Linked DNA regions of Homo sapiens. The protein of the gene in region 1 interacts with the protein of each later gene in a pairwise test. Each region holds a gene or a part of one and is shown in the gene's direction. Other genes may lie near its edges. The genes, in order: RAPGEF5 and PLAC9.

Evidence for each region.
Region 2: the proteins of RAPGEF5 (region 1) and PLAC9 interact in a two-hybrid assay, tested with the Homo sapiens proteins (one large-scale study listed by BioGRID and IntAct).

The regions. Positions count from the first base shown.
Region 1 is NC_000007.14:22,354,891-22,358,801, reverse strand, and holds the start of RAPGEF5 (rap guanine nucleotide exchange factor 5), read left to right. Parts: upstream 1-1,647; 5' UTR 1,648-1,741; coding exon 1,742-1,972; intron 1,973-3,911. UniProt on the Homo sapiens protein: Guanine nucleotide exchange factor (GEF) for RAP1A, RAP2A and MRAS/M-Ras-GTP. Its association with MRAS inhibits Rap1 activation.
Region 2 is NC_000010.11:80,139,073-80,142,883, forward strand, and holds part of PLAC9 (placenta-specific protein 9 isoform 1 precursor), read left to right. Parts: intron 1-3,009; coding exon 3,010-3,107; intron 3,108-3,811.

The DNA.
Region 1 (3,911 bases):
TGTTTTTCTCATGTCTTTCTCTCTTTTTTTTTTTCTTTTTTGAGACGGAGTCTCACTCTGTCGCGCAGTGGCGCAATCTTGGCTCACTGCAAGCTCCGCCTGCCGGGTTCACGCCATTCTCCTGCCTCAGCCTCCCGAGTAGCTGGAACTACAGGCGCCCACCACCACGACCGGCTAATTTTTGTATTTTTAGTAGAGACGGGGTTTCACCTTGTTAGCCAGGATGGTCTCGATTTCCTGACCTCGTGATCCGCCCGCCTCAGCCTCCCAACGTGCTGGGATTACAGGCGTGAGCCACCGCGCCCGGCCTCATGTCTTTCTTCCTTACTTGAAGGACACCTACCCTCCTTCTGCCTGGTTGAATCTTCCCCACTCACCCTTAAGGTGCAGTTTAAACTTCCTTCCTTTCGTGGATTTAGCTTTGCCCATCCCAGGCCAGAAGCATTTCTCTCTCCTGTGGCCTGAAGTGGTCTTACCTACACTTACTTGGCAATTAGCAAGAGTACAAGTGCAATATCTTTGTTTTTCTGGATGTTTGTCTACTCCTAGGTTAAGTCTTACCTTCCTTAAGGGCAGAGGTCACAGTTCGTTCCTCCTTTTTTGTTACATGGCATGTTTTTATACATATTTGCCAAGCACCTACCATGTGAGTGGCTGAGGGCACAATGGTAAACCAACTCTGGACCCTGACCTCCTACGATTCTTGTCATTTTTTAAAAATGTGAATAAGCTTATTCAACTTTTGTAAGTCTTAGACAAAGATGGGGATCCCAGCGCCCCACTGATGAGAAGTCAACACCCTGGCTGGCCCTTGTTGAAGACAGATTGAGCTGAGATGTGAACATTCACACTCCCTGGCGTTTAAGGCACTGCTGGAATAGTTTCACTCTCAATGATCCAGAATTCCTGCCTCCTGGAAGGGTGTAAACAATGATTCACACCACGGCAGGCCTTTACAGTTCACCAAGCACATTCATCACAGCAGCGGGCTTTCAGGGAAGGTCAGGTTCTGACATGCTAACAGAGATTCACCTTCAGGTCACCAGACTTGCAGCTACTCTGCTCAACACCTATCATAACCAACAAAAGTTTTCTCCCTTCGTCCTTTAAGGATGCGTGTGCCAAGAAGGGTCGGCGCAAAGCAATTTTGCCTCATGGTGTTTGCCTTGTAGCGTGTCTATTTTGAAGTTCCTTGGCCAAAACAGTTCCCAGGAGTAAAGATTACGATGAGGGGCCAGGCTGTGCAAAACGCGCGGGAGGGCGGACGACTCTCCAGCACACTTGGTTGAAGTCCAAGTCAACCCCTGGCTATTCGAAGAAGTGAAGCAGGACTTTTCAGCCTAAGGGGTAGGGGGACAGGGACAGGACAGAAGAGCGGGTTTGCCGGAGATTCTGGGAATTCTGCACCTGTGGATGAGCCGGTGCCCAAGGTGCCCTCTTCCTCCCGGGTCCCGAGTGGGAGATCCGAGGGGGACAGGTCCCAGGCAGCTTTCGCAGGCGAAAGGGCGGGGCGGGGCGGGGCCCGCGCACCTGGGCGGGGAGGGGAGGAGAGAGGAGGGGAGGGGAGGCGCGCGGGGCTGAGCCTCGCGGGGGCCGCGGCGCGCGCCAATGGGCAGCGGCTGGCAGCGCGCCCCGCGCCCGAGCCGCAGTCGCGCCCTCTCGCTTCCTGGCGAAGGCGCGGACGGCGCGCGGAGGCGAGCGCGGTGGAGAGGAGCCCCCGGCGCCGCAGCGCCGTCAGGGCATGAGGATGGCCGTGGGCTCCGTCAAGATGCAGCCGCCGTGCGAGAGCCCGGCCCTGGCCGCCGCGGCGGCGGTGGTGGCGGCAGACGGCCCCCTGCGCCGCAGCCCCAGCGCCCGGGAGCCCGAGCGCGAGCAGCCGCCGGCGTCGCTGCGGCCGCGGCTGAGGGACCTGCCCGCGCTGCTGCGGAGCGGGCTCACGCTGCGGAGGAAGCGGAGCGCCGCTGGGGGCCGGGTGAGTGGCCCGGCCCTGTCCGAGTGGGCACGGGCGGCGCGCACGTGGAGCCCGCGCCCACCCCCCGGGCCGCTGAGGGGGGCGTCTGGAAGTTGGGGAGGTGGCGGAAGGGACGCCCTTCTGCCGGACTCGGCTGAAGAGGGGCCCGGGACGGCGGGTTTTGAGGTGCCACCCCCTGAGCGACGGCTTCCCCCGCCCCCACACCTCCCCCCCACCAGGCTGCACCTGACTTAACCCCAGGGCCCCCAGATTCAGGCTGCGGGACCGGGCATCGGCTGAAGACGAGCTGTTTGCCTCTTCTCGGAGGGGAAGCTGCAGGTGTCCAGCGTCCAACAGCCAGCCAGCCCTGTCCCAACCGCAAGCTTCAGGCCCCACGAGCGGCATCCCTGTTTGCAGGACGCATGCGACGTGTGTGCTTGTTTTGGAGGTGCTGTTGCAAGCTCTGGGCATCGAGACTGGTTTTGGTGGTCTCCACCGCCGAGGGGCAGACCCAGGAGTCGGAAGCTCTTGGGTGAGCTTCCAGTTCCTGGGTTCCGGTGTCTCCAGCACTTAATACTCCTGGACACCCTCTTGAGCAGGAGGGTGCACGCCCCCAAGAACCTTCAATATTGACTTCCTGATGGTGTGTTCAGATACGATTTCCTGGTGAAGGAGTGTCCCTCATTGAGTTCTAAGTGCATCTAATGACCTGAGCAGGTCAGGCATGTTTTGTATTTTTAAGAGAAGCAGGAAGGTCTGCTGATTGTCTCCTGGGATCTTTAAGAAGCCACCTAGGAGGCCCCGCCAGGGCCTCAGGACACAGAGCTGACTTACTCAGATTTCCCTGCTCACCAGGGTTTGGCGGCACCTTTGGTGGGTTCTACTCATCTTTTAAAAATTTATTATTAAGTGGTCTTTAATGAGAAGCTGCATCAATGTGGTTTTTCTTTCCCGTTTGGCTGTAATTTTTAAAATGCAGTCTTGTCTGACTTAAAACAAGACCTTGCTGGGAGACTTCTAGCTCTTTCAGAGATGGGTTTGTGTAAACTTGAGAGTGAGGGATAACCACTTGTTTTCATGCGCCCTCCTTTGGGTAGGGAAGGGTCTGAACTGATGTCGGTCTTCAGCTTCTCGAGGCTGCATCTCTCTTTTCCTAGGCATTTTCCATCTCAGGTGGAAAATGGTCCATCCCAGGTCCATCTCAGAAGATGTTCTGAGGATTCTCTGTGTGTGATGGGACATTCTTAAAGTCGGTGACCCAGAGAGTTTAGGAATTGCCCACAAGTGACCTTAACATGTGTGGCATTTAGGATTGCCTGCAAAGTAAGTGAGGAAATGTGTCCCCAAGATGTGGTGTCGGAATAAACAAGAACTGGAGTTATAGACTTTGCAGGAATCCAGGGAAAAGTAGGTCAAATTATGTTTCTATTATCCTTGACGGTTACTTTTTCATGGCACAGAATACTGAAGACATGAGGGCTGCCAGGCAGTCTGCGACAAGAATTGCTGAGGGTTTCTGTATAAATAGATCTATAGTATTTATTTGCGTTCATACTCATGTTTCTTGCTGCCTGGGAGGGTGTCGTATACCTTGTCAATATACCTATTTAGTTTTATTTTTTAATTACTCTGAATGTGGTTACCTCAGATAATGTATGCTTTATTAACCCTCTTTGATTCTAATACTGTATTATTTCTTTTTGGGACTTTCCAAACACATTTCGTAACTGCATAGCCAGTTTTTATTGAAGGAAGTTTGATTGTCAGTTTTTCCAGTGTTGGAAACCCATACTTTTTGACTATTTATTTGACTGTTTATTTCCCCTTTCTTCTGCCTTGGAACTACCTTTGTGATTTTGGAATCTTCCCCATCAAAGGAGTAGGAAGGGGGTTGAAAGAAGGAGAAAAACAAGTGAAATATGAACTTGTCTTAGGCAGCTCAGGCTGTCATAACAAAATA
Region 2 (3,811 bases), on another chromosome or scaffold:
TCCCTAGTAGCTGGGACTACAGGTGCCCACCGCCACGCCCGGCTAATTTTTTTGTATTTTTAGTAGAGACGGGGTTTCACCGTGTTAGCCAGGATGGTCTCGATCTCCTGACCTCATGATCTGCCCGCCTCGGCCTCCCAAAGTGCTGGGATTACAGGCGTGAGCCACCGCGCCTGGCTAAAATTGCAACATTCTTTACCTCTTGTTCCTCCTGTGATTCCTAAGACCTCCAGTCTCTTCAGCCCCCATTTCTCCCAATTCATTGGCCCTCTTCTTGGCCTCATTTCCTTCCTCATCCCAGCTGGATTCCAGGCCTCCTCTCCTAAACCTCTGGCCAAATCTCAGTTCCTTGGCCCCTTGCCTCCACCACATCCATCCTGCAGACTCCTAGGTTTCAGCTCCATCCAGCCATCTGTCTTTGCTGCCCTGCACCCAGACTGTGGAGCACTGCTGGGGGAGGACTCGTGCTTCCAGGATTCCTTGTTGATGCCGGCTCATTCTGCATAGCCCTCCTACACTGCATCCCTCATTCTGCACATCCCCTTTTGAAGCCCTCTCTTTATTCAAGTCCCTTACCTAGTGGTGCACTGATGGACTGGCTCTCAAAAAAAAGTGGGGAGGGGGGTCGTTGATTTCCGTGGTGTAAATGTTCTCATCATGGCCACCATTTTTTTTTTAACTTAAAATTTTTTTTCTTTTTAGAAATGGGGTCTCACTATGTTGATCAGGCTGGTCTTGAACTCCTGGCCTCAAGCGACCCTCCCACTCGGCCTCCCAAAGTGCTAGGATTACAGGCACGAGCTACCATTTCCAGACACCATGGTCACTATTTTAATGTCTGTGTTTAGCAACCTACTCATAGAATTCTTGTAATTTTAACATCTAGCTCTCCTCCCTACGTGATCTCCATCTTACTGCACAGAGTAAATAGAGGCCATCAGGTGGGAGCTCACTCCACTTTTTGGCCCTCTAGTTAGATGGTTTGCCTTTGCCCATTTTTGCTGCATTCCCTCTGTCTTCCTTCGAGATGTGGTCCCACCCCCTCTGGATCCAGGGCCTCCCATCAGTTCAGGAAGTTCATCCTTGGGTTCTCCTGTCTTCCTCCTGTCCCTCAGGCTGTAAGCATGATTGTGTTTTCCAATGCTTTAAAAAAAAAAATGACAACCATAAATACTCCTCTAGACCTTGCGATCCAATCTCCCTTCCTTCACAGCCAAGCTTCGTGAAATTTTCCAGAATCCAAGTTTCCACCCCCAACCTCACCTTCCCTCCTCATCTCATGGTAATCCAAACTCTGCTTTTCCACCACTCCTAAAAGTGCTGGGGTGAAATTTAGCAGGGCCTTTCTGTGCTCTCTTTCCAGTCCTTATCTTGCTAGACCTCTCCGCTGCTTTCGGCCCTGCTGACGCTTTTCATCCTCTGCAGAATCTGTAAAGCTCTTGGCTTCTCTTGACTTCTGGGGCAGCACCCTCCTTCCTGAGTGTCAGCGTTCTCCAAGGTTCCAGCCAACCCTGATGCCCCACAGGCATCTCAGGGTTACCAACTCTGAAACCCAAGCTCGGCATCAGGGCTCTGAGACTTCTGCTCTGAGGGTTGATGGTGCCTGGAAGAGCTAACTCAAGGAGAACAATGGTGAATCAAGAGTTGAGAGGGGTTTCACCATGTTAGCCAGGATGGTCTCAATCTCCTGACCTCGTGCGCCTACCTCGCCCTCCCAAAGTGCTGGGATTACAGGTGTGAGCCACCATGCCTGGCTAAAATTGCAATATTCTTTACCTCTTGTTCCTCCTGTGATTCCTAAGACCTCCAGCCTCTTCAGCCCCCATTTCTCCCAATTTATTGGCCCTCTTCTTGGCCTCATGAGTCCTCTGCTTATGAGTAGTGACTTTGGACACATCCTTTCACCCTTCTGTGCATCAGTTTTCCTACGTGTAGATTGGGCATAACAACAGGTTGTTGGAGAGGTTAAGTTAGCACCCTACATGGTGCATGGTAAGCACTCATCACATGCCAGCTGTTACTAACGGGTTCCCAGTGTCAACGCTGCTACTGAAATATCTCCTTTCATTTTCTTCCTCACTATTCCTACAGCTCCTGCCTCTGCTCATCACTTCTCCTTCACCCCTCTTATCCTGATTGCTGCAGTAACCTCCTGCCTTCAAAGGCATCTCCCTCCAATCTATTCCCTATATTTAAAAAATTCATGTTTGGCTCTGTGACTTTTCTGTTAAAATAACCCCCCTTGGCCTGGCTTGGTGGCTTACACCTGTAATCCCAGCACTTTGGAAGGCTGAGGCGGGTGGATCACCTGAGGTCAGGAGTTTGAGACCAGGCTGACCAACATGGTGAAACCCTGTCTCTGCTAAAAATACAAAAATTAGCAGGGCGTGGTGGCAGGTGCTTGTAATCCCAGCTACTCAGGAGGCTGAGGCAGGAGAATCGCTTGAACCCAGGAGGCGGAGGTTGGAGTGAGCTGAGATCGCACCATTGCACTCCAGCCTGGGCGACAGAGCGAGACTCCATCTCAAAACAAACAAACAAACACACAAAAAAACAAACAAGCATCAGAACTGGTTTATTAAAGCCCCTGGGTTAAAGCTCTGCCCCCTTGGCTTCATTTCCAGGACTTCCCTCTCCAGTCTCTCTCTCCCGCCCACCCTGTATCTCCAGCCACCGCGGGCTCCCTGCAGGTTTTGCACAGTGAGCCCTGCTCTTTCAGACCTCTCCATTGTTGCAGGTGCCATTCTGCCTGGCTGAAGCCCATCCTCCCTTCCTCCCTGGGCTTCACCTCCTTGAGGAAGTTCATCTGGGTCTGTAGGTGACTGTGGCTGTAGAGACTGGTGGGATTGAGATGGCTGACACTCGCACACTGACCCCCACCTGGGCCGTCCTCCGCTTGCTCCTGAGTTTGCTTTGAGGACTGACCTCATTTGAGCCCAGTGTTTACAGGAGTCTCTGGCATTATGGAAAACTAAGGGTCCCACAGTGACAAGACTTGTTTTCCCACAGCTGCCGAACCCTTCAGCCCTCCGCGAGGAGACTCAGCTCAGAGCACAGCGTGTGACAGACACATGGCTGTGCAACGCCGTCTAGATGTCATGGAGGAGGTAACAGGGTGGTTTGGAAGGACATGCGAGTTCAGGACCACCTTCTAGGATGGTGTTTTTATGGGCAGATGCAAGCTTGCTTTGGAATGTGAGGACATCCGGGCCGATCCTGCCCTGTGGCCACCTCGTCCAACATCACCCTCCCATCTAGGCTGCCGGGCTGCCCAGCCCCCAGTGGACCCTGCCTCCCCTAAGGCCTTGCTTACCCCCACCCGGATATTTCAACATCATTACTGGATGGGAAGGTGGAAATTCAGTCACTGTTTTGTTATATAGCCACGATTCCTAACTTGTGTGGGGAAAAGTTTACATCTTTATTGTCACAAGCCTTTAACTGAAATTGAGCATTCTCATTCATCATAAATACAAACAGCGAGCCGTGGTATTAACAGTACTATAACTTTGTCATCAATAGAAATCCAGATAATTTCATCTTCTAGTTATGAATATCTCAACATATAATTTTTATCCTTCCTTATGTCAAAATTTCAGTTGTTATTAGGCCTGATGTTAAATCATGTGATTTAGTGAGTTAATAAATACATTTTATTTTTTTTGAGGCAGGGTCTCTGTCTGTCTACCAGGCTGGAGTGCCGTGGTGCAGTCTCGGCTCACTGCAACTTCCACCTCCCAGGCTCAAGCAATCCTCCCACCTCAGTCTCCCAAGTAGCTGAGACTACAGACACATGTGCCACCATGCCTAG